Regions from separate parts of the Homo sapiens genome. Here region 2 is linked to region 1. A link means that fine-mapping ties the variant in region 1 to the expression of a gene that starts in the linked region. Tissue or cell type: whole blood. Region 1 holds a variant in brackets; the other region holds the start of a gene. Each region is shown on its reference strand, or each on the opposite one.

Evidence for each region. PIP is the estimated chance that this variant, and not a neighbour inherited with it, causes the effect.
Region 2: P2RY12 starts here. The variant in region 1 is the best candidate, but not a certain one, in a credible set for the expression of P2RY12 in whole blood (TOPMed, PIP 0.54).

What each region holds. Positions count from the first base shown.
Region 1 is chr12:54,317,754-54,333,613 of GRCh38, reverse strand. It overlaps COPZ1 (coat protein complex I subunit zeta 1), which reads right to left and starts at 8,483. Exons shown (of 9, transcript NM_016057.3): 1 at 8,433-8,483. The coding sequence starts at 8,450. It also overlaps the pseudogene RNU6-950P. RefSeq lists enhancers at 3,043-3,732, 3,733-4,423. The variant T/C (reference allele first, on the strand shown) is at 7,709.
Region 2 is chr3:151,374,892-151,390,751 of GRCh38, reverse strand. P2RY12 (purinergic receptor P2Y12) reads left to right here and starts at 5,999. Exons shown (of 3, transcript NM_022788.5): 1 at 5,999-6,060. It overlaps MED12L (mediator complex subunit 12L), which reads right to left. Exons shown (of 45, transcript NM_001393769.1): 28 at 14,538-14,726; 29 at 13,878-13,952; 30 at 13,574-13,761; 31 at 12,579-12,740; 32 at 10,528-10,639; 33 at 8,007-8,096; 34 at 6,864-6,973; 35 at 6,534-6,669; 36 at 5,561-5,722; 37 at 2,580-2,942; 38 at 617-773. RefSeq lists an enhancer at 12,615-12,684.

The DNA of each region.
Region 1 (15,860 bases):
TGCCTCAGCCTTCCAAATAGCTAGGACTACAGGCATGCACCACCATGCCTGGCTACAATACTTGTACTATAATGGGGATCAGCCATTAACTCAAATTTTCCCTTTCTCTGAGATTCAGCTTCTTCATCAGAGAAATGAGAGGCTTGACCTAGATCAGTTAAGGTTAATGCCTTTTTTGAGTTACAGCAGACCCCTTTGATAAACCAATTACATCTATGGACCTTATTCCCAGCAAAATACATTCACAAATTTTTTTATGATTTCATGGCTAGGCATGCTGGTTCCTACCTGTAATACCAGCACTTTGGGAGGCCAATGTGGGGACAAATAGCTTGAGCTCAGGAGTTTGAGGCCAGCCTGGGCAACATGGCGAAACCCTGTCTCTACTAAAAATACAAAAAAATTAGCTGGGCATGGTGGTGCATGCCTGTAATCCCAGCTATTCAGGAGGCTGAGGCATGAGAATTGCTTAAACCCCGGAGATGGAGATTGCAGTGAGCCAAGATCATCGCACCACTGCACTCCAGCCTGGATGACAGAGCAAGACTCTGTCTCAAAAAATATATATATAAATAAAAATAATTTTTTTATGATTTCAAAGAGTTCACAGAGCCGAGTTTAGAATTAAATGAGATTCTCTCTGGAGATAATAAGATGGTGTGGAGGGGGCAGGAAAAAGAGGGGAAATGAGTGATACTTTTGTAAACCACCCCCTCTACTCTACCTGGCATCCAGTAATGCTGGATAAATTCAATAAATGTGTGTGTGGCCTTCATAAATTAATAAATATGATTGAGAAAACTAACAGCCAGCAGGGGGAATAAAGGTCAGCAACCACGCTCCCTCCAGCTTTCTTTTTTTTTTTCCCTTTTTTTTTTTAAGACTGAGTTTCATTCTTGTTGCCCAGGCTGGAGTGCAATGGTGCAATCTCAGCTCACTGCAACCTCCACCTCCCAGGTTCAAGCGATTCTCCTGCCTCAGCCTCTCAAATAGCTGGCATTACAGGCACCCACCACCACACCTGGCTAATTTTGTGTTTTTAGTAGACAGGGCTTTGCCATGTTGGTAAGGCTGGTCTCGAACTCCTGACCTCAGGTGATCCGCCTGCCTCAGCCTCCCAAAGTGCTGGGATTACACGCGTGAGCTACCATGCCCAGCCACCTCCAGCTTTCAATGGCTGAATTTGATGACTGTGAAATGGGCAGGACAAAGACAACCAAACCCTAAGCTTTTTAGGAATGCAAAGTCTCAGGACCTTTCTCAAAACTCAGAAAGCCTGTCTGTTGGAAAATTTTTTTTTTTTGAGACGGAGTCTCACTCTGTCGCCCAAGCTGGAGTGCAGTGGCTCACTGCAACCTCCGCCTCCCGGGTTCACGCCATTCTCCTGCCTCAGCCTCCTGAGTAGCTGGGATTACAGGCGCGTGACACCATGACCGGCTAATTTTTGTATTTTTGGTAGAGACGGGTTTCACCATGTTGGTCAGGCTGGTCTCAAACTCCTGACCTCGTGATCCGCCCGCCTCGGCCTCCCAAAGTGCTGGATTACAGGCGTGAGCCACCGCGCCCGGCCTTGCTGGAGGATTTTTTACCCAGGGGTCACATAGTCCCTAATTCTTCAACTATCATGGAAGTGAAAGAATCACAGAAATGAGGGACAAAGCAGTACTGCTGGGAAGAGAGATGAACTGAATAAGGAGAAATCAGACTATACTCCAGACCTGAGGCCTGAGAGCACCATTAGAACATTCTGCCTTCTCAGTTTGGTAATCCAGGAGCCCTCACTTAAATAACACTCAGCAAAGGAAAAAAATCAAAAGGGGCTAGATCCATTCCTGATGAGTCCTGGGTCACGATTTGTATCATGATTTATCCCTTTACTCCCCCCCACATCTCCCTGCTTTTGCTCCTGAAAACAAAAAGCTAGTCTCTGAGAGACTGAATTGACAGACTCTGTGTTATCTTTCAGTCTATTTATGCCCCCAAATCAACCCCGAGGCAGAATTGCTCTATTCTCCTCTGGTTTTAGTCTCCCTCTAAAACCACACAACAGAAAAGGAGTTGCAGAAAATTAGTTGACCGAGCTATCCAGGGCAATTGGCTATGGATGGGATATCTGCATTGAGAGTGAGAAAATAGGCCGGGCGCAGTGGCTCACACCTGTAATCCCAGCACTTTGGGAGGCCAAGGCATGTGGATCACAAGGTCAGGAGTTCGAGGCCAGCTTGGCCAACATGGCGAAACCCCGTCTCTACTAAAAATACAAAAATTAGCCAGGCATGGTGGTGGGGGCCTGTAATCCCAACTACTCGGGAGGCGGAGGAAGGAGAATCGCTTGAACCTGGAAGGCAAAGGTTGCGGTGAGCCAAGATCATGCCATTGCACTCTAGCCTGGGCAACAAGAGCAAGACTCTGTCTCAAAAAAAAAAAAAAAAAAAAAAAAGAGTGTGAAAATAAAAAGCCAAATAAAAAAGCAGGCTTCATCTGCAGCATATATAACTTAGATTACACAACAGGAAGGACTTCCTGAAGAGATGGGTGTGGTCAAACACCAGAAGAGGTGACACAGGCTAGGGAATGTAAGGCCAGGAGAGATCCCCCTAATAATCTGATGTAAGGAAACCTATTCTGCCCAAAAACAGGAGGGACAGAATGTGAGAGGGCCCTTGCCAGCACAAGCATCTTACAAGTGCATGGACTCATTCTCTGAATCCATCTTCATCAGCTGTCCCCTGGGCACTCTGCCTTTCCTCTTCCTAATTACTCCAGCACAAGTGGGTACATAGGTACTGATTCTTTATCCCTGCTCCATCTGATTTGCTCCTCTAGTTTCCCTTTCCACAACCTGTTTTCTTGTCAACATCCAGACTCTAATCAAGCCATGTCAATGGAGTAAAGTAAGAAACAGCAGCAAGTATCTAGATAAAAAAGACCCTAAACCTGCCACTAGGCTCCGTCAAATACCTGGATAATTGCACTCATCCTCTGCCTCCCAAGGCAGACCTGGCTTCTCAAGGGTCTGGTTTTCCTCACATGGAGGCCCCCTCCTCCTCTTCTGACCATGTGACAGCTCCCCTAGATCTTTGATATAATTTATACCTTGCCAGGGACCAACTCTTTCCCACCACTGTGAAGAAGAGGGAAAAAATATATATAAATACGTCGGAAATCTATAACAAGGTCTTCTTGGAGGGCAAGACATGGGGAGAGTTAGAAGCAGCGTCAATTGCTCTTTGGGGGTTTTAGTTCAAGCCGAGGTCTGCTTCCAGCAATCAACCATTAAAACAAGCTGGCCAGAGTAACAGCACAGTTTATTCTGATCATTTAATTTGAAGTGTCAATAAATTAAACTTCAATCAATTAAACTAGGTGTGCAATAACCCAGATGGACACCCCGACACCAACATAATCACAATAAAAATTTTTATTGCTGCCAGGGACCTCACCGGGGGCAGTGCTGGCACTGCTCGCGCCCTAGCTGAGAAATATATCTCCACAGCGCAGGAATGAGGAGATTGCTTCTCCTAACAAAATGGAGGGGGCCAGGCACCAGCAAGGACGCAGCTGGGAGAGGGGCACAGGGGACTGCCAGGAACGAGATGGGAGTGCTTTAGGGGCTTAATGTAATTGATACCTTTGCCCAGAGCAGGGGGAGGGGGGCATTTAGGCCAAGTACCTCTACTGTTAGGGCCAAAGGAATTTAACAAAAGCCCCATTAAGATGATTCAGGAAGCAAAGGCCAAGGAGCAACATCAACCTTTAAAGTCATTGACATATTCTGCATAGTTTCCTCCTCCATACATACTCATATCCTTGTGCACTTTGGATGGCCTGATTTTTTAATGAGGCTTAGAATTTAGGATTTGGTTATGGTTTTAAAATATTAAGGTAAGACAAAGTACAGAATTAGAAGTCTAGTCTGTAAAGCACTGGAGAAGCACTCTGAAAGTGAATCCAGAGAGGATTAGGAAAAATAAAACCTATGAACAAAGATTTAAAGATCTAAACCGATACAGAATTCAGTTTTGTTTGTTTTTTAAGACAGAGTTTCACTTTTTGCCCAGGCTGGAGTGCAATGGCCCTCGGCTCACTGCAACCTCCGCCTCCCAGGTTCAAGCGATTCTCCTGCCTCAGTCTCCCGTGTAGCTGGGGATTACAAGCGCATGCCACCACGCCCAGCTAATTTTTGTATTTTTAGCAGAGACGGGTTTCACCATGTTGGTCAGGCTGGTCTTGAACTCCTGACCTCAGGTGATCCACTCACCTCAGGATTACAGGTGTGAGCCACCGAGCCCGGCCCGAGTAATTCAGCTTTAAAGAAAAAAAGTAAAGCAGGAAGGAGGAAGGGGAAATCCTTATCTTTAAGATTCCACAGGTTATTAATGGAGAATGGTGATCTGCAGAGATCCTCTTCATTCACAACTCAAAAAGCGAGAACCAGCAGATACAGCAAGAGAGAAGAAGCCAAGTCCAAAGATGCAGGCTGAGATCACTATTATTAAGCATTGGGAACTAAAAGAGATGAAAGGGTCTCTTTCCTTAGAGCCTAAGGAGACCTGAGAGAGATTAGACAAATCTGCTTGAAAGCTAGAGCTGGATTACTTAATTCAAGAAAGAAATGTGACCATGTGACCCACTGTAAAGTACCTAAAAGAAGGGAACTTACTGTTATTTAGAAATTCCACAATCAATGCAAACTTTGATCAACAGTTCTTCTTGACCCCCTGTAGCTTACCTGTCCCTTTTTCTCGACATCCTGCAGCTATGTATGTACCTTGTAGAGTTAAGGACAGAAGAATATGCTTTGATCAGATTGTCCCTAACCGCATTACATAGGTTTCCCATAACAAAGAACCAGTGTGGTTTTAAAAGCAAAGTCCAGGGTTACCTGATCAAGTTAGCAGGGATCTGTGAATGCAGCCTATTAGGCATAGATTAAAGCAAAAGAATAAGGAAGAAGCAGGCTGAAACAGACTTCACTGAAGAAGCAGAGACAGAGAACTAAGGGAAGAGAAATGTGACAGAGAGACTTTCTTTTTCTTTAACTTTTCTGAGACAGAGCCTTGCTCTGTCACCCAGGCTGGAGTGCAGTGGCGCATCTCGGCTCACCGCGACCTCTGCCTCCCAGGTTCAAGTGATTCTCTTGCCTCAGCTTCCTGAGTAGCTGGGATTACAGGCGTGGCCACGCCCAGCTAAGTTTTGTATTTTTAGCAGAGACCGGGTTTCACCATGTTGGTCAGGCTGGTCTCCAACTCCTGACCTCGTGATCCGCCCACCTCGGCCTCCCAAAGTGCTGGATTTACAGGCGTGAGCCACCGTGCCCGGCCTTTTTTTTTTTTTTGAGATGGAGTCTAACACTGTCGCCTGGGCTGGAGTGCAGTGGCGCGATCTCGGCTCACTGCAACCTCTGCCTCCCTGGCTCAAGTGATTCTCCTGCCTCAGCCTCCTGAGTAGTTGGGACTATAGGCTCGTGCCACCACGCCCAGCTATTTTTTTTTGTATTTTTAGTAGAGACATGGTTTCACCATGTTGGCCAGGCTGGTTTCGAACTCCTGACCTCAAGTGATCCGCCCACCTCAGCCTCCCAAAGTGCTAGGATTACAGGCATGAGCCACTGCACTGCGCCCGACAGAGATACTTTCACATATAACTCCCCCAGCTTACCCACTACACACAGGCCCATTGTTAAAAGGGCTCCCCAATTATTATCTTCCTCATTCCTTTACCTTTAAGCAGGCTCCCTTCTAAACATATATAGGTAAGTCTAAAAACTTCCAAAAAAACCAATTCCCTAGAATCTATCCTAGTCTGCTAATTGGGTTTAGGGGGAGGTTTTTTATTCTTATTTTTTTAGAGACAGGGTCTGGCTTTGTCACCCATGCTGGAGTGCAGTGGCACAATCATAGCTCACTGCAGCCTCAAACTCCCAGGCTCAAGCGATCCTCCTGCCTCAGCCTCTTACAGTGCTGGGATTACAGGCATGAGCCACTGCACTCAACCTCTTGATTAAGAATACTTGCTGCCGGGCACGGTGGCTCACTCCTATAATCCTAGCACTTTGGGAGGCTGAGGCAGGTGGATTGCCTGAGCTCAAGAGTTCAAGACCAGCCTGGGCAACACAGTGAAACCGTCTCTACTAAAATACAAAAAAGTTAGCCAGGTGTGGCAGCACGTGCCTGTAGTCCCAGCTACTCGTGAGGCTGAGGCAGGAGAAATTGCTTCAACCCAGGAGGCAGAGGTTGCAGTGAGGTGAGATCACACCACTGCACTCCAGCCTGGGTGACACAGCGAGACTCTGTTTCCAAAAAAAAAAAAAAAAACTTGCTAACTGGCCGGGGTGCAGTGACTCACACCTGTAATCCCAGCACTTTGGGAGGCCAAGGCAGGCAGATCACTTGAGGTCAGGAGTTCAAGACTAGACCAGCCTGGCAAACATGGAGAAACCCTGTTTCTACTAAAAATACAAAAATTAGCTGGGCATGGTGGCGCGTGCCTGTAACCCCAGCTACTCAGGAAGCTGAGGCATGAGAATTGCTTGATTCTGGGAGGCGGAGGTTGCAGTGAGCCAAGATTGCACCACTGCACCCCAGCCTGGGCAACACAGCCAGACTCTATCTCAAAAAAAAAAAAAAAAAAAAAAAAAAAAAAAAAAAAAGAATACTTGTTAACTGCTTGGTACAGAAAATATTTAAAACTACTCAGATTTTAAGCTTTTTACCTATATTTGACCAACCGACATAAGGAATTAACTGTCTTTAACTGAAAGAGAGGAATTAAAACCTGTTATTCTTTTATCTGATGAGGATCTGAATGTGTATGCTTAGGAGATCTGAAGGAAAATAAAAGACAAGCTTCTTTGGAAAGAGGCCTAGAGTTCAAGCCAATTAAGGAAGAAGGCTGGGAGTTAAATTCCTACACTATACTACCTACCTACCTACACACACACACACACACACACACACACACACACACACACCCCTCCAAATCGCAAAATAGGGCACTTTTGAGAGAAATTCTCTGGTCCAGTTCTAAAAAGGGGTAACAGGTATTTTATTTGTTAGAACAAGCATAAAGCATCATATGGACAAGAGGGCTAATACAGCCCTTTAGCGACCACAATTCTCATGTAACCAGAGAGGGAGAAATTAGCATCCTAGATCATACAATAAGAATTCCTGGCCCGGCGCAGTGGCTCACGCCTGTAATCCCAGCACTTTGGGAGGCCGAGGCGGGTGGATTACGAGGTCAGGAGATCGAGACCATCCTGGCTAACACGGTGAAACTCCGTCTCTACTAAAAAATACAAAAAATTAGCCGGGAGTGGTGGCGAGCGCCTGTAGTCCCAGCCACTCCGGAGGCTGAGGCAGAAGAATGGCGTGAACCCGGGAGGCGGAGCTTGCAGTGAGCCGAGATCGTACCACTGCACTCCAGCCTGGGCGACAGAGTGAGACTCCGTCTCAAAAATAATAATAATAATAATAATAATAATAATTCCTGGCCAGGCGCGGTGGTTCAAGCCTGTAATCCTAGCACTTTGGGAGGCCGAGGCGGGCGGATCACTTGAGGTCAGGAGTTCGAAACCAGCCTGGCCAACATGGTGAAACCACGTCTCTACTAAAAATACAAAAAAAATAGCCGGGCGTGGTGGCACGCGCCTATAGTCCCAACTACGCGGGAGGCTGAGGCAAGAGAATAGCTTGAACCCGGGAGG[T/C]GGAGATTGCAGTGAGCCAAGATCGCGCCACGTGCGCACTCCAGCCTGGGTGACAGAGCAAGGCTCGGTCTCAAAAAAAAAAAAAAAAAAAAAGAATTCCTAAGGTCTAAATGGGTAGAGAAAAGGAGAACAGAATAAGGAGTCTAGAAAAAATATTCCACAATCCATGCTAACTTTATCAGGTATCCCAGAACTTTGATGGAATACTGATTATTTGACAAACCTATATAATAGGGATTAACAGGAAACCGAAGACAAAACAGTTTCCTGAAGGAATGTGGCAGGGAATCGGCAATGGAGAGTCAAACTTGGGAAACCATCAGGAGGAGTCTGTAACGACAAAACATCTGTATTCTTTTCTTACAATATGGGGCGAGTTTGGTGGTTTGGTAAATTAAAATCAGGGTATCATCCACAATGCTAAAAATAAGGGGCAACCTGAAGGGTCCTAATCCAGTACGCCTACAGGTCTGTGTATCCTAAGGAGTCCATGTGCTGCCTTCAACTTTCCACCGACTCTATGCCCTCTCCCCGGCAGGGCTTCCTACTCTAAACCAAGGCTTTAGCTCCTACACTAGGCCACACACTTATTCCAAAGGTCAGCAGAACGCTCAGTCCCCAAGAATTACCCGGAACTCTCTTTCCCCGTCTCCCACTCGGGCTGAACCCTGACTCCCGGCCCCTGTGGACACCACAGCATCTCTGCTGCCCCTCCAGCTCCTACCAAAATCAGCGCCTCCATCTTGCCCCGCAGCTGGTGCCGACGTGGAGCCGCAAAAGAAACGCCGCCGCTGATTGGCCATACGTTCCCATTAGGCCCCGCCTAGGATAAGGATCATTGGGTAAGGCTTGCTTTATTGGCCAATTATTGTACTAGCTTGCTTACCGGAAGCAAAGTGTCCAACCAGAAGGCTCAGGTGTTTGATTGTCAGCTTGAATACTCAATAAAACGCCAAAACCTCACGACTCATTGGGGCGGGAGGGTTAGTGGGGCGGGGTTGTTTCCATGGGGAACAGAAGAAGCGATTGTTAATTTTCAATTGGTAGGGCCGAGGACACGTGATATTGTCGGACTGATTTAGCGATTTTTAAACCGCACCCTCTTTAGGGGGCGCTGTGTCTCCTTAGCCTTTAACACTGGCGCTTTCTAACCGGAATCCTGCCCTAATCCCTATTTTCAGCGCCCGCATTAGGTCCATGATCTCTGTGGCTAGCCCTTCCCTCATGCTCGCTCAGGTCACTTCAGCATCCTCACAGAAAGTCTGCACAACCATAGAGTAGAGCCAAGAAAGGCCCAACATGTTAACTACATAAACCAAGGCTGCCAGGAGTTGATAGTCGCAATAACAATCTCCCTAAGGTGGAGTTCCAGGCTTTGCTGGGCCTGAGGAACATGAGAAGTCAGTTTGTAAAGGCCAACTTGAGCTCAACGTGAAATCGGCTTTGGAGATGGGGTTTGCGGGACAAACGGGGAAAGGGATGGGATTAGAATAAGAGAGGGGTTATAGGGAGTAAATTCTGGGGTTTTCCAATAGAAACAAGCCGTTGTGCCTGGGCGCGGTGGCTCAAGCCTGTAATCCCAGCACTTTGGGAGGCCGAGGCGAGCGGATCATCTGAGGTCGGGAGTTTGAAACCAACCTGACCAACATGGAGAAACCCCGTCTCTACTAAAAAAAAAAAATACAGGCCGAGCGTGATGGCTCACACCTGTAATCCCAGTACTTTGGGAGGCCGAGGCGGGCGGATCACGAGATCAGGAGATCAAGACCATCCTGACTAACATAGTGAAACCCCGTCTCTACTAAAAATACAAAAAATTAGCCGGGCGTGGGTGGCGGGCGCCTGTAGTCCCTGCTACTCTGGAGGCTGAGGCAGGACAATGGCGTGAACCCAGGAGGCGGAGTTTGCAGTGAGCTGAGATCGCGCCACTGCACTCCAACCTGGGTGACAGAGCGAGACTCCGTCTCAAAAAATATACATATATACAAAATTAGCCGGGCGTGGTGGAACATGCCTGTAATCCCAGCTACTCGGGAGGCTGAACCAGGAGACTCACTTGAACCTGGGAGGCGGAGGTTGAGGTGAGGCGAGATCTCGTCATTGCACTCCAGCCTGGGCAACAAGAGCGAAATTCCATCTCAAAAAAAAAAGAAAAGAAAAGAAAAGGAGAAGAGAAGAGAAAAGAAAAGGAGAAAGAAAGAAAAGAAAGAAAGAAAGGAAGGAAGGAAGGAAGGAAGGAAAGAAAGAAAGAAAGAAAGAAAGAAAGAAAGAAAGAAAGAAAGAGAAGGAAAGAAAGGAGAGGAAAGAAATGAGGCGTTGCAAAATGAGAAAAGAGAAGTTTACTGAATGCAAGAATTTCACAATAGGGAATGATTTTGATGAAGCTTGGCTTTCCCCTATCCCTTGGTTTCCTGATCCCTGACTCCTCTTAGGGCAGGGACACCTATTACCTTAATTATCCTAAAGGGATTTTTTCCCTCATCTCTGAAAATTATATCCTTAGGAGCCCTCCAAGAAGAGATTCCAAACTTACCCAGGAATTTTTCTTTTTTGAGACGGAGTCTCGCTCTGTCCCCCAGGCTGGAGTGCAGTGGCTCAATCTCGGCTCACTGCAAGCTCCGCCTCCCGGGTTCACGCCATTCTCCTGCCTCAGCCTCCAGAGTAGCTGGGACCACAGGCGCCCACCACCACGCCTGGCTGATTTTTTGTATTTTTAGTAGAGACGGGGTTTCACCGTGTTAGCCAGGATGGTCTCCATCTCCTGACCTCGTGATCCGCCCGCCTCGGCCTCCCAGAGTGCTGGGATTACAGGCGTGAGCCACTGCTGCACCCGGCCTTTTTTTTTTTTTTTTTTTTTTTAAGACGGAGTCTCTCTCTGTCGCCAGGCTGGAGTGCAGTGGTGTGATTTTGGCTCACTGTAACCTCCGCCTCCCGGTTGCAAGCGATTCTCCCTGCCACCTCAGCCTCCCTTGTAGCTGGGATTACAGGCGCCTGCCACCCCTGGCTAATTTTTGTACTTTTAGTAGAGACGGGGTTTCGCCATACTGGCCAGGCTGGTCTCGAACTCCGGACCTCAGATGATCCACCCGCCTTGGCCTCCCAAAGTGCTGGGATTACAGGCGTGAGCCACCGGGCCCAGCCACCCAGGAATTTTTCTAATAGTCGGAGTAGAATCAAGGAAACATAAAACAATACAATACAAGGGCGCTGTGGCATGTGCCTGTAGTACCAATTACCCCAGGGGCTGAGGCAGGAGGATGCTTGAGCCCAAGAGTTCGAGGCCGTAGTGCGCAGTGATTGTGCCTGGGAATAGCCACTGCATTCCAGCCTCGACAACACAGGGAGACCCAGTCTGTATATAAAAATAAGATAAAATAAAAAATTGAACAATACAATGCAAATTATAGACCTACAGTGTACTCTGACAGAAGGTGAATTTCTGGTGGAATACCAGGTGTTAAGCCTTATATCTGGAAGAAGTGAAGGCTTGTCCTTTTATTCCTCAAGGAGAGTTGTTCACACATTTACTGTGCCTGGCATCACAGTCAGTGGGTTGTCATTGGCTTTGCAGCTTAAAGGTAATACTAACATTTACTGCCCACTTATTATGTGCCAGGCACGGTGCTAAATCTTTAAATACATTATTGAATACATTTTTTAAAATCCTTATGAAGTAGCTGGGCATGGTGGCTCATGCCTGTAATCCCAAAACTTTGGGAGGCTGAGGCAGGCAGATCACCTGAGGCCGGGAGTTCGAGACCAGACTAGCCAACATGGTGAAACCCCGTCTCTACTAAAAATACAAAGATTAGCTAGGTGTGGTGGCAGGTGCCTGTAATCCCAACTACTCCGGAGGCTAAGGCAGGAGAATCTCTTGAACCCGGGAGGTGGAGGTTGCAATGAGCGAGATCCTGCCATTGCACTCCAGCATGGGCAACAAGAGCAAAACTCTGTCTCAAAAAAAAAAAAAAAAAAAATTCCTGGCCGGGTGCGGTGGCTCACACCTGCAATCTCAGCACTTTGGGAGACCGAGGCGGGTGGATCACGAGGTCAGGAGTTTAAGACCAGCCTGGCCAAGATGGTGAAACCCCGTCTCTACTAAAAATACAAAAAATTAGCCGGGCGCGGTGGCAGGCACCTGAAATCCCAGCTACTTGGTAGGCTGAGGCAGGAGAATCGCTTGAACTCAGAGGGCAGAGGTTGCAGTAGCCGACATTGCATGCTACACTCCAGCCTGGGTGACAGAGTGAGACTCCGTCTCAAAAAAAACAAATAAAATAAAAAATCCTTACGAAGTAGATGATTATTAAACCCATTTTACAGATGAGCAACATGGAGTTTAGAGCAGTTAAATAATTTACTTAAGGCTACAGAACTGTTTTAGCAGCCATACGTTTGAGCACAGGAGACTCTAAACCATGTTCTTACCCACAGTCCACTCCTCTAGTTTGTTGTACTGCCTCTCTTGCATCCCAGTCCTACCTCAAGGACTCTACCTCAGTGCCAGATATTCTACAAGGACCATAAGGAGGAAAAAGTGTGGTATGGTTGGTTCATGGGGATGGTTGGCTCCTTTTTCTGTGTAGTAACTGACAAATTTTAAGTCAGATATTGTTGCAGAAGATCGCTTGATTCTTAGCTCTCCAGCCTGTTGGGGTAATTGTGCTGTGGGAGGAAGACAATTGACTGAATTAGAGACATTAGTTATTGTTGTGACTTTGCTTTAATCAGTGAGAGAACTCTGCAAGTCTCTGTACCCTCTCTGGATGGACTATAGCTGTCACTTCTGGAAAGGGGAGAGGTTCAGACCAGAGCTTTCTAGGGCCCTAGCTAACTTTTTTTTTTTTGGAGATGGAGTCTCGCTCTTGTTGCCCAGGCTGGAGTGCAATGGCACACTGTCGGCTCACCGCAACCTCTGCTTCCCAGGGTTCAAGTGATTCTCCTGCCTCAGCCTCCCGAGTAGCTGGGATTACAGGCTTGTGCCACCAGGCCCAGCTAATTTTGTATTTTTTTAGTAGAGACGGGGTTTCTCCATGTTGGTCAGGCTGGTCTCGAACTCCCAACCTCAGGTTATCTGGCTGCCTCGGCCTCCCAAAGTGCTGGGATTACAGGCGTGAGCCACCACACCCGGCCAGGCCCTAACTTTAAAATTCTATGATTGGCCAGGCGCCATGGCTCATGACTGTAATCACAGGACTTGGGAGGCCAAGACGGTGGATGGCTTGAGGCCAGAAGTTCGAGACCAGCCTGGACAAAATAGTGAGACCCCCATCTCTACAAAAAAATAAAAATAGACCAGGCACGGTGGCTCACTTTGGGAGGCCGAGGTGGGTGGATCACGAGGTCAGGAGTTCAAGAACAGCTTGGCAAAGATGGTGAAACCCTGTCTCTACTAAAAATACAAAAAATTAGCCGGGCTTTGTGGCGGGTGCCTGTAATCCCAGCTATGGGAGGCTGAGGCAGAGAATTGCTTGATCCCAGGAGGCGGAGGTTGCAGTGAGCCGAGATCACGCCACTGCACTCCAGCCTGGGTGACAGAGCGAGACTCTGCCTCAAAAATTAATTAATTAATTAATTAAATTAAAATAAATTAAAAAACCAGTAACCTTCATTCTTTCCTCTGCCCAGCAGCCGGTAACCACTACTCTACTTTCTGTCTCTATGAATTGACTATTCTAGTACCTCATAAAATGGAATCATACAATATTTTTCTATTTGCATCTAGCTTATTTCACTTAGCAGAATGTCTTAAAGGTTGCATAAGAAATCTTTGAAGGATCGATTTCATGGAACAGAATTCAAAGAAAGAAAAGAGAACAGAGATAAAACTGGAAAGGTACTTTGTGTCCAGGTTGTGAAACACCTTGAAAACAAACCTAGGTAGCTGCCATAGAGGGACCAGATGTTGTGGAAGTTGGAATTGTTACAGTCTTTTGGAAAGTATTCTGGCAATATCCTGTAAAACTAAACATGGATATACCCTCTCCTAGAGAAATAAAAACACAGCCCAATACCTAATGATACATATTTAAGAATGCTTATTATAGAATTGTTTACAATGGCCAGAAATAACATCTGTCAACAGGGGAATGAGTTAATAAATTATCGTACATCTAGACTGTGGAATAATATGCAACTAGGCCGGGCACAGTGGCTCACACTTGTAATCCCAGTACTTTGGGAGGCCGAGGTGGGCAGATCACCTGAGGTCAGGAGTTCGAGACCAGCCTGGCCAACATGGTGAAATGCCGTCTCTACTAAAAATACAAAAATTAGCTGGGCATGGTGGTGAGCGCCTGTAATCCCAGCTACTTGGGAGGCAGAGGCAGGACAATCACTTGAACCTGGGAGAAGGAGGTTGCCATGAGCCAAGATCGCACCATTGTACTCCAGCCTGGGTGACAAGACCAAAACTCCGTCTCAAAAAAAAAGGAATGTTAGATCTATATACATTAACCTGGAGAAATAACAATGGCATGTTAAATGATAAAAGTAAGTTGCAGAGTAATTTATATGTCATGATTTTATTTTTTTATTAAAAAAAATAAGACTATAGATGAGGCGCGGTGGCTCACCCCTGTAATTCCAGCACTTTGGGAGGCTGAGGCAGGTGGATCACCTGAGGTGAGGAGTTCCAGACCAGCCTGGTCAACATGGTGAAACCCCATCTTTACTAAAAATACAAAAATTAGCCAGGCGTGGTGGTGCACGCCTGTAATCATAGCTACTCAGGAGGCTGAGGCAGGAGAATCACTTGAACCTGGGAGAAGGAGGTTGCAATGAGCCAAGATTGCGCCATTGCACTCCAGCCTGGGTGACAAGAACAAAAACTCTGTCTCAAAAACAAACAAAAAAGACTATAATTATGAATAACTATGTTTGTAAATGTTTATATTCTATTCTATTAATATTTATTAAATGTCAATTGTGGGCCAGGCACTGGGGATAAAGCAGTGAACAGAACAGACAAGTATGTTTACCCTCATGTAACTTGCATTCTAGCTGGAGGGGTGGGGTAATGTGTAGGAGCAGACAATAAACCAAAAAAATAAGTAAGCTAGGGCCAGTGGGGGGTGGCTTACACCAGTAATCCCAACATTTTGGAAAGCAGACGCAGGAGGATTGCTTGAAGCCAGGAGTTCGAGACCAGCCTGGGCAACATAGCAAGACTTCATCTCTAAAAAAGATAAAAAATTAGCTGGGCGTGGTGGCATGCACCTGTATTCCCAGCTACTCCAGGGGCTGAGGCTGAAGGATCGATTGAGCCCAGGAGATCAAGGCTGCAGTGAGCTTCGTGATCTTGCCACTGCACTCCAGCCTGGGTGACAGAGTGAGACCCCATTTCAAAAAAAAAAAGTAAACTATATAGTAAGTTAGATGACAAGTGTTGTGGAGAATAACAAAATGGAAAAAGAGGGTAGTGGACAATTCCACTTTGTTGAACAATTTATTATATATATATATATTCTTTTTTAGAGATGAAGTTTCACTCTGTTGTCTAGGCTGGACTTCAATTACTGGGCTCAAGGGATCCTCCCACCTCAGCCTCCTGAGTTGTTGGGACTACAGGCTCATGCCATGGGTGCTGGGCTATATGTTGCACAATTTGGAATGGTACATTTATGTTAGGGAGAAAAGAGGAACAAGGAAGAAGAGTTAAATAGGGTGGTCATGGAAGACCTTATTCAGAAGGGGACATTTCATTAAGAGACCCCAAAGAAGTAACAGAAAGAGGCTGGGCGCGATGGCTCACGCCTGTAATCCCAGCACTTTGGGAGGCCAAGATGAGCAGATCACAAGGTCAGGAGTTCGAGATCAGCCTGGCCAACATGGTGAAACCCCATCTCTACTAAAAATACAAAAATTAGCTGGGCGTGGTGGTGCGCGCCTATAAGGAGGTTGAGGCAGGAGAATGGCTTGAACCCAGGAGGCAGAAGTTGCAGTGAGCCGAGATCATGCCACTGCACTCCAGCCTGGGTGACAGAGCAAGACTGAGCCTCAAAAAATATATATATATAGTGCTGGCTTCAGCAGCACATACACTAAAATTGGAATGATGCAGAGAAGATTAGCATGGTCCCTGCGCAAGGATGACATGCAAATTCACGAATCCTTTCTTTTTTTTTTTTTTTTTTGAGATGGAGTCTCGCTC
Region 2 (15,860 bases), not on the chromosome of region 1:
ATCCTAACAATGCTGACAGATTTCAAATAATTTAAATATGCTAAAACATGCAATGTTTCATATAGAAAGAAAATTGAATTCATTTTTCATTAAGAGATGTTTTCATTTAGAAAATTTTCATTTGGGACGAGAAATCTACTTGGGCTTGAACCAAAGCAATACTAAAATCAGGAACATTTACTATGGTAGTTTTCCTTGTTGTTATCTAAATCTTGCTGAACCAATTTTCTTAGCTGTCATGATAATTCAGAACAATAAAAGACACTGTGCAATATTGTGTAATCTTTTAAAATGCCAATAAGAATTATATCTGATAAAAATACACACATTTTATAACATAAAACCGTTATCAACTTTTATATCTTACAGCTTAGATTTTCATCACTAGCTAATTTCCTTTTAACACTAAATAAAAGTTCCAAAATCAGTACATAAACTCGTAATTTAACCTATTTTAGAAAACAAAAAACATTTCTGTGTGAAGGGAATTACAGAAATGTCAACTGAGCACTCAGTGGTTGAAATGTCCAAGTTTTGTGGAGGTTTCAGGTTAAAAGCAAAGAGAACCACAAGCTGTTTCTCATCTCTGAGTGATCTGTGCTTTCTCATCACATACCTGGAGTAAGAGATTGGTTCTGAAGGAAAAAGCCGGGCTGCTGGGGCTGGCCCACGAGGTTGTAACCCCACAAGGTGGACTGTGGATGGTGCATCATTTGGGAGGAGATAGGCGAGTAATTAGGAGGCACTCGGTATATGTTGCTCTGTGGATATTCCTTCAACATAAAGTTTTTTAAAAAGTTACGTAACTCCACATATCACACAGCTAATTAATGCAAATAACTTCAGTAAGCTATCTGAGGTACCTCCTATCCCAATGTACAAAGCTGTTTTTTATAAAGGAGAAGATGGAAGGAAGAGTGCTAATAAATCCCCTGGAAATATTCATTTGAGGTAAACTTTTCCTTGACTTAAACAGTGCTTGGCTTGCAGTGGGCAGAGATGGAAAAGGATCTCTTCTGAATTCTATTTCAAAAGACTACAAGTGTGTCAGGAATACCAATACTGAACGACACTCATCACTGAAAAAGCACCTTCAGTTGCTAAGACTCATGATCATTTCATCTTAGAAGGCCTTTCCAATATCTTGGGTCTGGAGAATTACGCCAGAGAGCCCTACAGTGCTTCAGAACCACTCTTTGGCCAAGATGGTATTTCACTTGCAATTTTCCAGACATCGTTCTAAAGAAGTAGACACTCCCCTCATCCCCCATGCTTCCTCTTCCTTATAGTAGCTGCAAAGCCTGTAAGGATCACACCTGAAGGTCTCAATTTCCCTACCTTCCCTCATCTAGTCTAGCCCTAGAGGATGGAAGAGAAACAAAATCTCATTTCCCTGCAATTTTACTGAAGAGCATATCTCATTGAAAAGAGGGAGCTTCAGGAAGAATAGAGGAAGAGGGGACATGACCAGACTGACCTGGGGAGCAGGATTGGTTTCAGGGCTTTTTCATCAGAAAAGAACAAAAGCCCATCCACGTGGACTGACAGGCTGGAAACCCCAAATTTGAGGGAGTGTCAGTCTGGACCATTTTAAACTTCCCTTCAAGACAAAGGAATACTGGTAGGAAGACTGAATGAGAAGGGGGCACTGATGCTCAAGTGGCATCCTAAAGTGGTGGTGGTCATTTCTAAAATAGTATTAATCACCAAGCTATCAGCTAGGAAAAGATGTATTTTAGTTCTCACATAGGTAAACAATAACCAATCATGAATATCTGAATGAAATGGTGAATATTTCTTCCACTGTGCAGCAAGAATGCTGTGGAATTTCATTAAAAATGTCTCAAATCCTCTATCAAATATTTTCCAGGTTTTAATTTAATTTAAATAGAAAAACATTTTATGCATTACTTCTCAAGGTTTATAAAATTATTTCTAAATCACCATCAAATAGATTTCTGTTGTAATGAAAAGATTATTATACGTGGGGAACACTAATAGAGAAACAAGAAGTAAAACTATTTTAAATTAGGCTTATTTTCATCTTTTATAAAGTCTGAAAACATGGTAAAGAAGGAAAATATATGAGGGTAAGATGGAATAGTAAAACATAAAATCTCAGGAACATCCTATTGGCTATGCTAACTCCAAGTTTTATCAAAGAAAAACCAAATAGAGCTTTTTATGTTAATTTACTGAAGATATCAACCACTTAAAATACAATAAATATTTTAGACATATTAAAAATATGTGAGAGAATGGGATTGTATAGTTCTAAAAATTTCAAGTTTCAAACCCGAGGAAATTAGGAGGCACTGAAATATTAATTAAATATTACAATGGAAGCCTACAATTAAAATAAAATTATTAAAAGTGGAGGACGGAAAATCAAAAGCTTTAATCTTTTGTCTGTGACAAGTCATTGTGTGCCATTCAGTTAATGCAGAAACCTGTTAGGAGAACTGTCATAACAAAACTTATCCTGCTCTTGGTAATGTTTCGAGGGATATGATTTGGGCACGAGTAAATCTCATACTAAATGCTAATGAGCCAAGGTTCTCCTTCCTTTCCCCACTTACATCAACTCTTGAGCTAGATTTCGTCTTGCGCTTCCTTCCTTTTGTTTTCTTTTCTTCATCTGTTGTGGTTTTTCCCTGATCTGACAGCTCAGCGGACTTCCTTTCTGGTTCCTGAGAAACTGGAGATGTGGGCTCTTCCTCTTCCTCCTCAGGAGGCAGGGGCAGTGGCTGGAGGTAGTAACTGCGGGGCTTGGGCATGGGGTGTGTGTGATACAGCAGGAGGTGATGCTGCTCCTCGTACTTGATCACTCTTCGGTCCACTCGGACTGTCCCAAACCAGGCCCAGGACAAAGGAGCTGGGTTCTTCTGACCCTCAAACAAGTCCCACGGGGACACCTTCTGCTTCGTAGAGACCTGGAGACCCTGTGGGAAAATAGCGCTCTAAGATAGCACACTCAGATCTTTTCCTTATTCATAGGCCAGGCTTGTATGGGACATGGAGTCAGAGAACACTTTGGCTGGCATGAGCCCTAGAGAACCCGAGAATACAGCAGAGAGGGTTACACAGCTACATCACCGGAGAGCAGTGGCTAGAATTCAGACCTTTGTAAGCCCGGTTCTACAGTTCTTTAACCACATGATGCTCTGTTTAGGCAACAGAGGCAGTCTAGCATATTTTATTGTTAATGTGTATTTCCTCTTTTTGCTAAAAAAATTCTAAAAATTTGTTGCTAAAAATTCTAACACTGCAAAGTTAATCTTACTAAATTATAACCAGTTCTAAATCTCTGTAATCTATTTATAATTTTGAAGATAATATCAAATTTAAGAGTCAAGTTATAGTCAACCTGTAATTGGGTTAGTATTAACTTCAATCCAAATCTGCATGAACTTGGTTCAATATGTGGGCCCTGTACTTAATAAGCCATACTCTGAATATAATATTATTATTAGAGAATTAAATTGTAGCAGCAGGAATAAGTAAAGTCTTTCAACTCAAGCTTATATTTACTGACTCTAGAAAAAAAAAAACGGTTACCCTCTTTTTATTCTTAACATTAATTGGTGACATCTCTTGGCACTTGCCTTAAAATGTCAATTTAAAAATATTTTTCCTTAAATGGCCCCCAAATAACTACTCAGTCATTCCCTAAGATGTAAGTGTTACTGTTGTTATCTATATGCATTCTTTTATGAGTAGCTTCATCTAAAACTAAGGTTCAGGCCAGGCACAGTGGCTCGTGTCTGTAATCCCAACACTTGGTGAGGCTGAGGCGGGTGGGATCACCTGAGGTAAGGACTTTGAGACCAGCCTGGCCAACATGGTGAAACCCCGTCTCTACTAAGAATACAAAAAAAGGCTAGGTGTGGTGGCTCACACCTGTAATCTCAGCAATTTGGGAGGCTGAGGCAGGTGGATCACGAGGTCAGGAGTTCAAGACCAGCCTGGCCAAGATGGTGAAACTCCGTCTCCACTAAAAATACAAAAATTAGCCAGGCATGATGGCAGGCACCTGTAATCTCAGCTACTCAGGAGGCTGAGGCAGAGAATTGCTTGAACCCGGGAGGTGGAGGTTGCAGTGAGCCGAGATCACGCCACTGCACTCCAGCCTGGGTGACAGAGCAAGACTCTGTCTTGAAAAAAAAAAAAAAACAAAGACAAAAACAAAAAAAAATTAGCTGGGCCTGGTGGTGCATGTCTGTAATCCCAGGTACTCAGGAGGCTGAGACAGGAGAATCGTTTGAACCCGAGAGACAGAGGTTGCAGTGAGCAAAGATCGCACTACTGCACTCCAGCCTGGGCGACAGAGCGAGATTCCATCTCAAAAAATATAAATAAACAAAGTAAAACAAAATAAAACCAAGGTTCAATTGCCACCTGTAAATTGACTGTTTCCTAATATTTGTCTTGAGATGAGAACTTTTTCCTTGGTGTAAAAACCACACATCCAAATGGATTCCAGATGTCTTACTACCAGGAAGTCCGCTGACACTGCAAACTCAAACTTGACCATGACTTTAGCTTTTTTTCTTTACACAAACTGGTATTAGATTCTCAGGCTACTCTAAATTCCCTGGTAAATCTGATTCTTTCATGTCTTCATATAAACTCTCCCTTTATTTGTACCACAATTTTCCCTACCTCCCAGCTAACTCTTAATCCTTCAAAATGACTCGTGTCAATTTTCCTGGGGACCCTCTATTCTATCCCCTAATACTCTCTCTGTACCATGTCACACAAATCTCATTACACTGTAATTGTCTGTCTACTTCCCCCTTGAGGGTAGGAACTCTGTCTTTCATCTTGGTGATTGTGGAATGTCGGTGGTTGCTTACTGTTCATTAAAAGAGTAACTGACCAATTTTCTCATATTTTAGAGAACCATCTTTAATATCTTATATAAAACAAATGTCCATTAAATACTGCTTGATAGGAATAGAGAATATCCTAACAATTAAAATAATTTTTATTTGAAATAGCTTACTACAGGAAGGTTTTTTTTTTTTTTTCCCCCCCCAGAGACAGGGTCTCACTTTGTTGCCCAGGCTAGGGTGTAGTGGCTATTCACAGGCATGAGCCTAGCACATTGCAGCCTTAAACTCCTGGCTTCAAGCAATCCTCCTGCCTCAGCCTCCCAAGTAGCTGGAACTAAAGACATGTGCCACCATGCTCAGCTTACAAGAAATTTTTCATTGATAAATATATTCTGCTTCTAAATCTGAAGTATAATCAGAACTTATTTATGCAATTTTTTTTTTACACTAAGCTTTTACTTAGTTTTCTCTTGGTAGGTTTCCAAAAATTTACTTAAATTCAGGGAAACATTTTAAGTCCTTTAAACATATAAAACGTAGATCTTCAAAGATATGACCTCTTTATATGATAATGCCAATGACTAAGTACACTTAGAAGACAAGCATATGCCTTAAAAACATCAACAGCAAAATTAATATATTTTATATATCCTATGGTAAGACAAAAAAAAGTATTTCATCTTTTGTAAATAAATTTATATATAAGAAAAAACATTCACTCTTGCCTGTTTTTTATCTATAGAGTCAAATCCAGCAATTTTGTTTCCTTTTGTGTCAATCAAGGAACCCATAGGTTCACAAGTGATGACATCACATGTCTGTTTCGGCAAAGGTAGTAACTGTCGAACTTTGTCAATACTTTCTGATCGCTTGTCTCCTAGCTCTTTCTAAAGAAAAAAGAGAGAGAGAGAGAGTGAGAAGTGGGACAGAAATTACAATGAAGGCAAAAGTTAACCAGAAGGAAGTTCCCCTATGAAACATTTCCCTTTTTATAGCTTAGCGCATGTTCTTTAACCCTGAACATGTTCTACAAGGCAGTTCCAAATAGAGCAATGAGTGTTTCATTTCTTCTATTTAAGTAGAAAATAGAACACATACAAAGGCACTGTTGTTACACAACAAACATCATAGTGCTGAAATGACAAAAATCCAGGGTAGTGATCACAATCAGAAGACAGGAGCTGCAGAACAGAACACTTTCTCATGTCCAGGGTCAGATTACAAGGTAACCATTGATTTATTTGATTGGTAATGCATCAGATTTATTTGGTTTCTTTTTTGCACTGTTTTCTTACAATTTTTTTTTAAAGGAGTCTGTTAGTGGTCGGTCAAATGAATCGATTTATAAATTTCAATGCAGATGGCTATTTTTTCAATTACACGTGCCAGTCCAAGCATAGAGTTATCCTAAATCTATCTAATGTTAGTATTCTGGTTATATATTTAACAGTGGATTTCTAAAGTTCTTTAAAAAATTAAACATGTTTTATAATGTAATTGTTTTCAATAAAAAATAATCAAGGTTATGTGCATGTAACTTCTGGGTACTAATAAGGTTAGGTGAAACAAATAGCAAATAATCACATTAAATTAAGTTGAATACAATTAATAACATTTAATGAGTAATAAATTAAAATGCACTAGATAATAAATCCATAAACAACTTGAGCTCATAATACAGGCTGATCTCAAACTTACTTTCAGTTTCTTTACTAAATTCATGTATGCACGCTTGTTCTCTTCAGATCCCCCAGGGGATGCATTTGATAGGTCAGAGGCTAACGTTCCATTGATTAAAACACCCAGCATGTCAAGAACTGTTGTGAATAATTCACTAAGAAAGAAAATAATTATTTTCATCTTAAAGTGAAACTGAAATACACTTATTTAACTGAGTATTTTTATTCAAGGCACAGAATTTTTAATAGCATCCAAGTAAATAAGATGTGGCAGAAATCGCCATCAGTATATCAAAGCTTATACCATGCATACATGTAGCAAAATCAATGTGAAGTGATAAAAACATACTTGTTAGTGTGCATGTCAACAGTTCCTGAAGTAATGATCTGAAGGAGTAGCAGGGCCCAGTCTGTAGTCCACTGGGTGCTCCTCTGCACCGTGTCAAACATTCCTCCTACCTAGCAGACAAAATACAGTAAGATATTTGCATTCTGTAAAACAGAAAGAACACCCCATTGCTTTATGTTATCAAATTTTGATTGTTTTTTATTTAAAAAAACAAGGGATGCTCTAGTTTATAGATTACCTTATCTTTTCTCTTTTACCTACATGTTTATCACTATTTTTAGTTCTTTCAGCACAGTTCAGTCATTCAAACATTAACTAAAATGAAGAAGGGACGTGAGTATCTGAATGTGGGCACCAATAAACTTAGCTTTCTTTTGTTCCAAATCTTTTATGATGTCCAGTTTTATGATGCAATTATAGTTGAATTAAACCTGAATAATGTCAAAGTCATGTAATCCAATTATCTGCATCTTTGTGTTTGCTGTACAATTACTATTGAATCTAAGCCTGCTATCATAATACCATATGGAAACATCCACTATCACAGCAGTGGTGGGCAGGAGGCTTGGCCCGCACACCTACCAGTTCACGTGTTGGGACAAGGTTAGAAACAACTGCAAAAGTATCAGGCAGGCCATCCTCCAGAGGGGCCTGCACTTGGGCCTGCCTGATGGGAAAAGAAAACTCAAGGAATGCACAATATGTGAGACATTTTAAATTTCTATAAAACTTCTCTGTGGGATTTGTCTTTATAATCAATTTGATGGAAAGTTGGACAAAACTTTGAGTTAAAAGACTTTTTAAATGGTTTTAAGTAAGTATAGTAGAAGCTAACACTTATAACAGTCTTCTCAGATTTATTCTTAGCACAAACTGAAGAGAAGGAGAGATTCACTGGGGTAGAGGTAGAGAAGGCAAATCTATGCTTAAAATACCTAGCACTGTCTAGATGTCTGACCAGACAGGAAGGAAAGCAGCAAGGGAAACAGAAGGCTTTAGAAACAGGGAAGTAATTACAGAGAGCAAAGAGTGGAAGGCCTCACCTTGTAATGCAGACTTTGCACTTAGGAGAAGTGGAAAGCTGGAGGTATTTTCACATGTAAATATGTTTAATGGAGGGAAAATACTAGAAATGTCACTTACCAAATTTAGGCGGAGTTGCAATGCTTCGTGCATCATCTGCCGCGCTTTTATGTCATCTTGGTATCGTTCTTCTCTCCAGTTACTTAAAATCTAAGATCCGGAAAAAAACTCCCCATTAAAGTTTAATTTTTCTCTCATTTAAAGATAAATTGAGCTTTATACTGATAGCAAAAAACCACTTCTTATCTTTAACAAATTAACAAACAAAGCTAAATAAAATTTTAGCTTTCTTCTTCCTCCATGCAGAAAGAAATCTGGCTATTTATTTGTGCATTTGCCGTTCTAGGTGGAGGAAGAAAATCTTATATAATTATATAGCTAGCCTATGATTAAGTCTGGGAAAATGCTTGAGAGGGCCATCAAATTAAGCATTAATAAAAACTTTTAAAATACATTACCTCATTGATCTTACGAAGAAAAACACTGGAGAGAGAGAATTACATTTTGCCTCAGTCCTGTTATATTTCTAGGGACTTGCTGAACCCTAGCAAATGTATTATTTTGATGTTTTATAGAAGAGAAGGTCTGCTATCTTATGTATGTGTCTTCCTTGATAAAGAGAACGCACGGTACTTTGAAAAATATGGCATTGCAGACATCAGCCAAGTGGCTTTATCAGTTTATAAAGTGGGCTGCTTCTTCACTTCCTCACTGACTCACACTAATGCTGGAAAAGGAAAAATTTGCTTAGGAAAGGGAGCCACAAGTGGGCAACACCCTAAAATCAGATGAGATGAGCAAAAAAAAAGTGCAATTCAAAACAAAAACAAAAAACCACTAACAAAAACCCTATCATGCTCTGAAATATGGTCATTAATGAGAGTCATCTTAAAAGAGTTCAAATGAGTCACATGCAGAAGTACTCCATCCCAACAGATGACCTGTAAGTACCCTGCAAGGTGAGAGGAAAGCACTTCCCAAATCTCATCAGAAGAAATGAACCCCTCCCTAAGGCTGGCTTAAGGGGGCAAGGTAGTTAACTAAACAACAAGCTCTCATGGAGCTCAAATAATAGTAGTGGGACAAATAAAACTAAGTGTAACAAGTGGTTTGAGGCATGGCAATGGCATACAGAATGGCTGTGGTCCTATTTTTAGAGGTGATCAAAGGCCTCCCGAAGGAGGTAACATCTTAACAGAGAACTGAATGAAGGGAGCAGGCCATGCTAATCTCTGGAAGGGAATCTTTCCACCTAAAGGGAAGAAAAGATGCACAGGCACTGAAATGAGAATTTGCTCAGCAAGTTCAAGAACAGTAACATGGCCAGTGCAACAACCATGGAGGAAAGAGGGCCATGACTGGTAGGAGACAAGGTAGGAGAGAGAGCCAGTGTCAAATCATGTCTGGCCTTATCAGCCCGAATTTTTTATACTAGGTATACTGAGGTAATATGTGACTTCCATTTAAAAAGGTTCACTATGATTGCTATATCTAGATCTCTCCTACCCAAAAGGTGAGAAATGACAAGAGGATCAAATAAGATTAAGTGTCCTTGTCCATGTCCATCTAGTACCATTCGAGGGAAAGACATGGTGTCATAGAAACACAGTGCCACAAGAAGGGGTCAATTAGGCTGTGTATCAGGATAAAACACCTCATAAGACCAATCTATCCACTTTGCTTAATTCCATGCTCTCCAATTTCTGTTGTGAATGCTCAGTTTCCTTATAGTACATAGATGCAAGAGCCTCAAACAGTGACCAGGAGAACTGTGTTTGGTGAAAAGGCAATGTCCAAATTATTTCTAAATAAACCAACATGCCTTCTGATTTATTTCTTGTGTACTTGGTTGGCATCAATACAACTGAGTTTCTGAACCTACAGATTTCAAGCTGAAAGCGTGCCTGATAATGTGGCATCCAAGCTTGAGGAGCTGGACTCACTGCCATGCCTACTGCAGCATAGATTGCTCCAGGTCCTCTCCTATGAGGCAGAGTTAGGAGACGGGCAGATAGTTCAAAGTTATATGCAATATATAAAATTTTACTTTTATAGGCAGTACACATTTATTGTATATATCTCATTAATATAAAGTTGTTAATCTTGTGGTGTCTACAATGCCAGGTAGAAGAATAAGGCATGGATTGTTTCTCAGCGTCTACTCAAAACATTTTGTAACCTTACTAGTTGTTTTTTTTTTTTTTTTTTGAGACAGAGTTTCACTATTGTTTCCCAGGCTGGTGTGCAATGGCGCGATCTCAGCTCACTGCAGCCTCTGCCTCCCAGGTTCAAGCAATTCTCCTGCCTTGGCCTCCCGAGTAGCTGGGATCATAGGCGCACACCATCATGCCCGGCTAATTTTTGTATTTTTAGTACAGACGGGGTTTCACCATGTTGGCCAGGCTGGTCTCGAACTCCTGGCCTCAGGTGATCCACCAGCCTCCGCCTCCCAAAGTGCTGGGATTACAGGCATGAGCCACCACACCTGGCCCTTATTAATTTAATCTCAGTATTTGAAAGGCAAATAAATGAATGCCGTTAGAAAGATATTTGCCTGTCTTAATATTATACTATACTTTACCTGGTTAACTTGATTCTGGAGAGATGTTAGGAGGCCTTCCCTTTGTTCATCTTGTCCCTTAAGGCAGGTAAGTACCAGTGAGAGGAAGGGTTGTTGACTCAAAAGAGACATACTACAAAGGAAGTAATAATAACAACAGATCTAGTTAGAAATAATGCATTACTTCCTCTGGCAACATTCATTTCTTTGCCTCACTATTAGATAAATAAGAGAGGTGGTAAATAGCCAAAGACTGCTTGAAAATTTAAATCATACCTCTACTTATAAAATTAAAAGCCACTGTAATGCTTCTAAATCACTTCGTATGCTCTAATTGCCCTCGAAGCCATTCTCAAACTAGCATCAAACCATACTGCATGTGAGCATGCCGGGCAGTGAGGGTAGAAGACAGTGAATTCATCTTCTACATCAATATGCAGAATTTAAAAATGTACATCAGAAAGAATATCAATTTATACACAGGATAAAATTAAAAATTTTTAAAGTTCTCATATAAAACTCTTGTTTTAGAGTCTGGGAAAACAGGCCTATATATATGTCTGTTGAGCTTGTTTTGGGGTTTGATTTTGTTTTTCAGCACATTTCCCAAGACCAAAAAGCAGGGTGTTAGTAGAGCTAATTCATCAGCCAGGGCTGAGGACTCCAAAAACAGTGTACTTGCTGGCGACCCCTAGTGTGCAGCTCCAACACAGCCCACAGGCTCCAACATAGCCCGCAGCATCCACTGGTAAAGAGGTGTCAAGGCATTTGGTTAAAAATTCTGTTTTAAATTGGCATTTTAACAAAATGTCTTCAATTAGAGAATAATCAACAAATCATATTGACAAACAAAGCGCCATGTTGGAAAGACAAATTTCTTAAAATGAGACCTAGGCCAAAATATTTCAATCAGCATTATTCTCCATGGGCAGAATAAAGAGCCCCTGATGTGGGAAGAGCGATCTTTCAAGTCTCTTCAATACCATCTGTCCTGCCTATGGGAAGTTAGGCAATGCACATACACTCACCTATCAGCAAATATGATTTGAAAATTAGAATTATGCTTCCTTGTTGGTTAATTAATCCTGGCCAACATGGTAAAACAACCAGATGTAAAACAAATACAGTACATACAATGCTGGGTCTCTACCAAAATGTACTGTAGTTAAGAGCACAAGCTCAGAAGCCAGACCTCCTGGATTTAAACCCAGGCTTTATGTCCTTCACTGTGTGTCCTGGAGCAACTCATGTAACCTTTAAGTGTCTGTTTCAACATGATATAAAGAAGATAATGAGAGTACCTACCACATGATTGCTATAAGAATTTTAAAAGCTCATGTACATAATGAGTTTTAGAGAGGAGTTGCCATTCTGTAAGCAGTCAATAAATGGTGGCTACTATAGTATTATTCATTAGTGGACAAGAAATCTATGTGCTTAAAATATTTTTTTAATGGAAGAAATTATCAATTTTTTTCCTTTACTCCTAGGTTTCTTGGCATTTTCACATTAGGGTGAGGTTTCTTTCTTTCTCAGTAACACGGTTTTCAAATATAATTACTTGAAACCTTTTCTTGGGCATAAAATAAATTAAGAAAACATTAGTTGTGGTGGCCGAGGAGTCTTAATGTCTAGTCTAGAACAGGAGCCCTAAATGTTAAAAATATGAGCAACTAGTTCAGACACCAACATGCCAGAATTATACATTATATTTATTTTAAACATAAATATCTAAATAATAAAAAAATAGAAATAATTAAAAATAAAATACAGGGATCAGGTAGCTATCCAGATCTGATTCAGTTGGTCTAAAGCGGGTCTCGGAAATCACTGTTTTTAACAGTTCAGCAGTGATTTGGATATAAAGGCAGAATTGAGAACTAATGTATTAAGGATTATAACCTGAAATTTTTTAGGAATAAGACAGCCTTGCCTAATAGAATATTCCCAGTTCCATTTAAAAACTAAATTTCAGTGGACTGTGGGTACAGTGACCACACAGGTTTACAGGAAGTGAGACTTTCTCAATTATTCTTTAAACTCTCACACAGACGCCCATCTTCCAGCCACACCTTTTCTGTTTCTGTCTGTCCCTTTCCTTTTTGGAAGAAGAACCCAAGTGCTGTCCCTTCTCCAGCTCTTCCCCAGCGGCTTTCAGCACTCTTCCTTGCACAGAAGTTGGCAACCTGGCGATGAGGGGGGCCACCAACCATACACCCCTGCGTTCGGAGGAACTAAAATCAGAAACAGGTGTTACACCGGAGAAAGCATCCTTTCCCCTGCTCTCACAGTTATAACAGAAACTCCAAAGCGAAACTTTGATGTATGAGACACACAGACTGTTCTAAAATTTCCCTTTTATTTCTGTATTATCTTTCCTTTTTCCGAACACTAGACATTTGCATGAGCTTTCCACCTAAGCCTACAGAAAGCAATAAAACATGCAGTTCTGGAAGGATATTGTAACTAAACTGACTTTAATGTTTTCCGATGACCCCCTCTCTCTAATTAAAAACAATCACTTTGTCCAACAAACAATATACTTTTCTGTCACAGTTACAATATGAAATATTATATGTAAGCATACTAATAGCTAATTTTTAAGGTTTAAAATTCGCTAGTTATACTTTATACCAAAATGATGAAATACAAATCAGCCTTTCATGATTAAATAATTACTTTAAGACTTTATATGCCTACTGGTTCTAATTCTGCACAAAAATTACCAGGATATATTTGTGCAAAATAATTAATTAATAAAAATGGTGGAAAAAGCGTTTCCCATATAATGAATACTACGTAACACAGTAGACTAAGGGACACTGAAAGCATGAACCAAACCTGAGTTCACCTGCAGTTTCAAGGTGTTTAAGCCTACTCAATCAAATATTCCGAAGCTATCATTCACCCCAGCTTTACTCATTAACTTATTAATAATAATCCCTGCTTACAAGTAACTATGTTCTTCACATTCCTATGACTTAAAGAAAAATCACTGTGCTACACAAAATTTACCGTTACTTGTGAAAAATTCATGACAGTTCAATAAAACAACAGACAAAAATACCTTAGGAATGTCTTTATTCCATTCTGTCTCGTGCTACTTGTATCAGCACTTCCAATACTGTTTGGGTTGAAGAGGCTCATGCCAGAATTAGAAGAATTATTTAGGTCTGCAGACTGCTGGAATACCTCTATTGTTGCCTTTGCAATATTGTCCAGTAAGTTGTTCATTTCGGCCACAGAACCAGAGCCCTAGAGTTAGATATAAGAATACTGGCACATATGTGTATTCCTTTATCCTCAAACATCAACGTGTTTTTGCTTTTTATAAAATTTCATACAGAGATAAGCTTTCAATATAAACTCACAGGGTCCTTCAAGCACTGTTTGATCATTAGCTGGAGTTCTAACCAGGATTGCCTCAGTGTCCACTGCTCAAGATTCTGGGAAAAATGGAAAGAATTAAAACATTATGGGTATCAAATGTGTTAAAATACAGTAATTTCTTACAGTACTCCTTCTCTCAAGAAAGAGCAGAATAATCATACACAATGAAATAATTTATATGAGTCAAAAGGTTCCCAATCTTGCTGCATATATATTCAGTAGCGATACAAACCAATAAACAGAAACATTAATTATTAATTAGTTAATACTGTGCCTGACTCAGCTATGCACTGAAACTAAATAAGCATTTCTCCTTTCAAAATCTATTTAACCAATCCCAATCCAAAATGATTTCAATATTTCTTTAATAATATATTTAACATAGCCCCTCTCTGAAGCATATTTCTCATGTAAATACAATACTGATTTAAAATATCAATATTTGTTTGATGATCATATACAATTTGCAGCATGTACATCCACCCAAAAATAAAGTATGTCAATTCCACAGAAAATGTGTGGGAATAAAAATCAGAATTGAAATCACAAATTAGCAAGGACAAAAAAAGAGAGGAAGTAACTCTTTTTATTATTACGAAGAATTTATCAAATGACAGAAACACAATCTGTATACGACTGACCTGAAGAATACGCTTAATGTGCTGTCTTTGCAGATTGTCCCCCTCGGTACATTCTTTAATGCCATGAGGATAACAGATAAGCTGCAGTAATTTCTGTGCTTGCATATTTGAAAGCACAGGGTCCAATATAAGTTCTTTGTCTGTACATAATCTTTCAGGTTCTTTTAAGCAATGCTCTCCTACCCATTCCTAAAAATAATATGGCAATTAGATTGACAGGCACTGGCTTTCGGTATATATATATGCAATATGTACTAAATCCACAGTGCATAATTGAATAGAAAACTGATAGGAATTTTCCAATTTAAAAAATTACATTAAAAAGTAGGTAGAAAAATTTTAAAAAACAAAATTTTTAGCATTTTGGCTTCTAAAAAATACAAAGTAGAACTTGCTTAAAAACATTTTTTAATGGGAAAAAAGAAAAGACAATAAAGAGAATATTAGTATGTTTTTAACTGGAAAGTAAGGTCTTGCTCTAGGCACTATTTTGTGTCAGTTTTTTCTAACTTGCTATATAATGATTCTATCAGATATACGTTCTTCATAATTTTTATGGAATACATTGTACTATCTCACTGACTAGATACAACATAGTATAACAAATATTTAGAAAACGATCTTCCTTTTTGATACTATTATGAATAATGTTATCATTATAAATGAGTAGTAGTGCACATCTCTTTTTTATACAATAATTTTCTTAGGGTAATTTCATAGAAGTGCAATTGCTGGGTCCAGTGTGAGTGGGGGGCTATAGATGCATGGGGTTAATGACCCTCTGAAGAGTTTCTACCAATTTAAACTCCTATTGCCTTTTCTTTACCATTTTTTTCAAAGGCAAATTATTATACTAAATAAAGTAAGAAATCATCAACAGTAACAGAGCCCAATTTGAACCCAGATCTATTTCGGGTGAAGTCTGTTTTTTAACCACCATACCAGTGGCTCAATGCTGGTTGCCCACTAAAATTACCTGGGATCTTTATAAAATTCCATGCCCAGGGCCCACATCAGACTAATTAAGTCAAACTCAGGTGGTGGCACCCAAATATCAGTAATTTTTTAGGCATCCAAATTGTTTTAAATGCCCCAGCTGATTCCAATATGCACTCACAGTTGGGAACCAACACACAATTGCCTCTCAATACTTATATGACTATGTAGCTATCTTTTACCATAGTTATAACATGCCTGTAAAAATACAAAAACATGACCCAGTCGGTATGACACCTATAGCAAAGTACAAAATAATATATAAGGTATGTCACTTTTTTTTTATAAGAGAACTTTTAAAACAAATATATGGGAGGGAGAATAAAC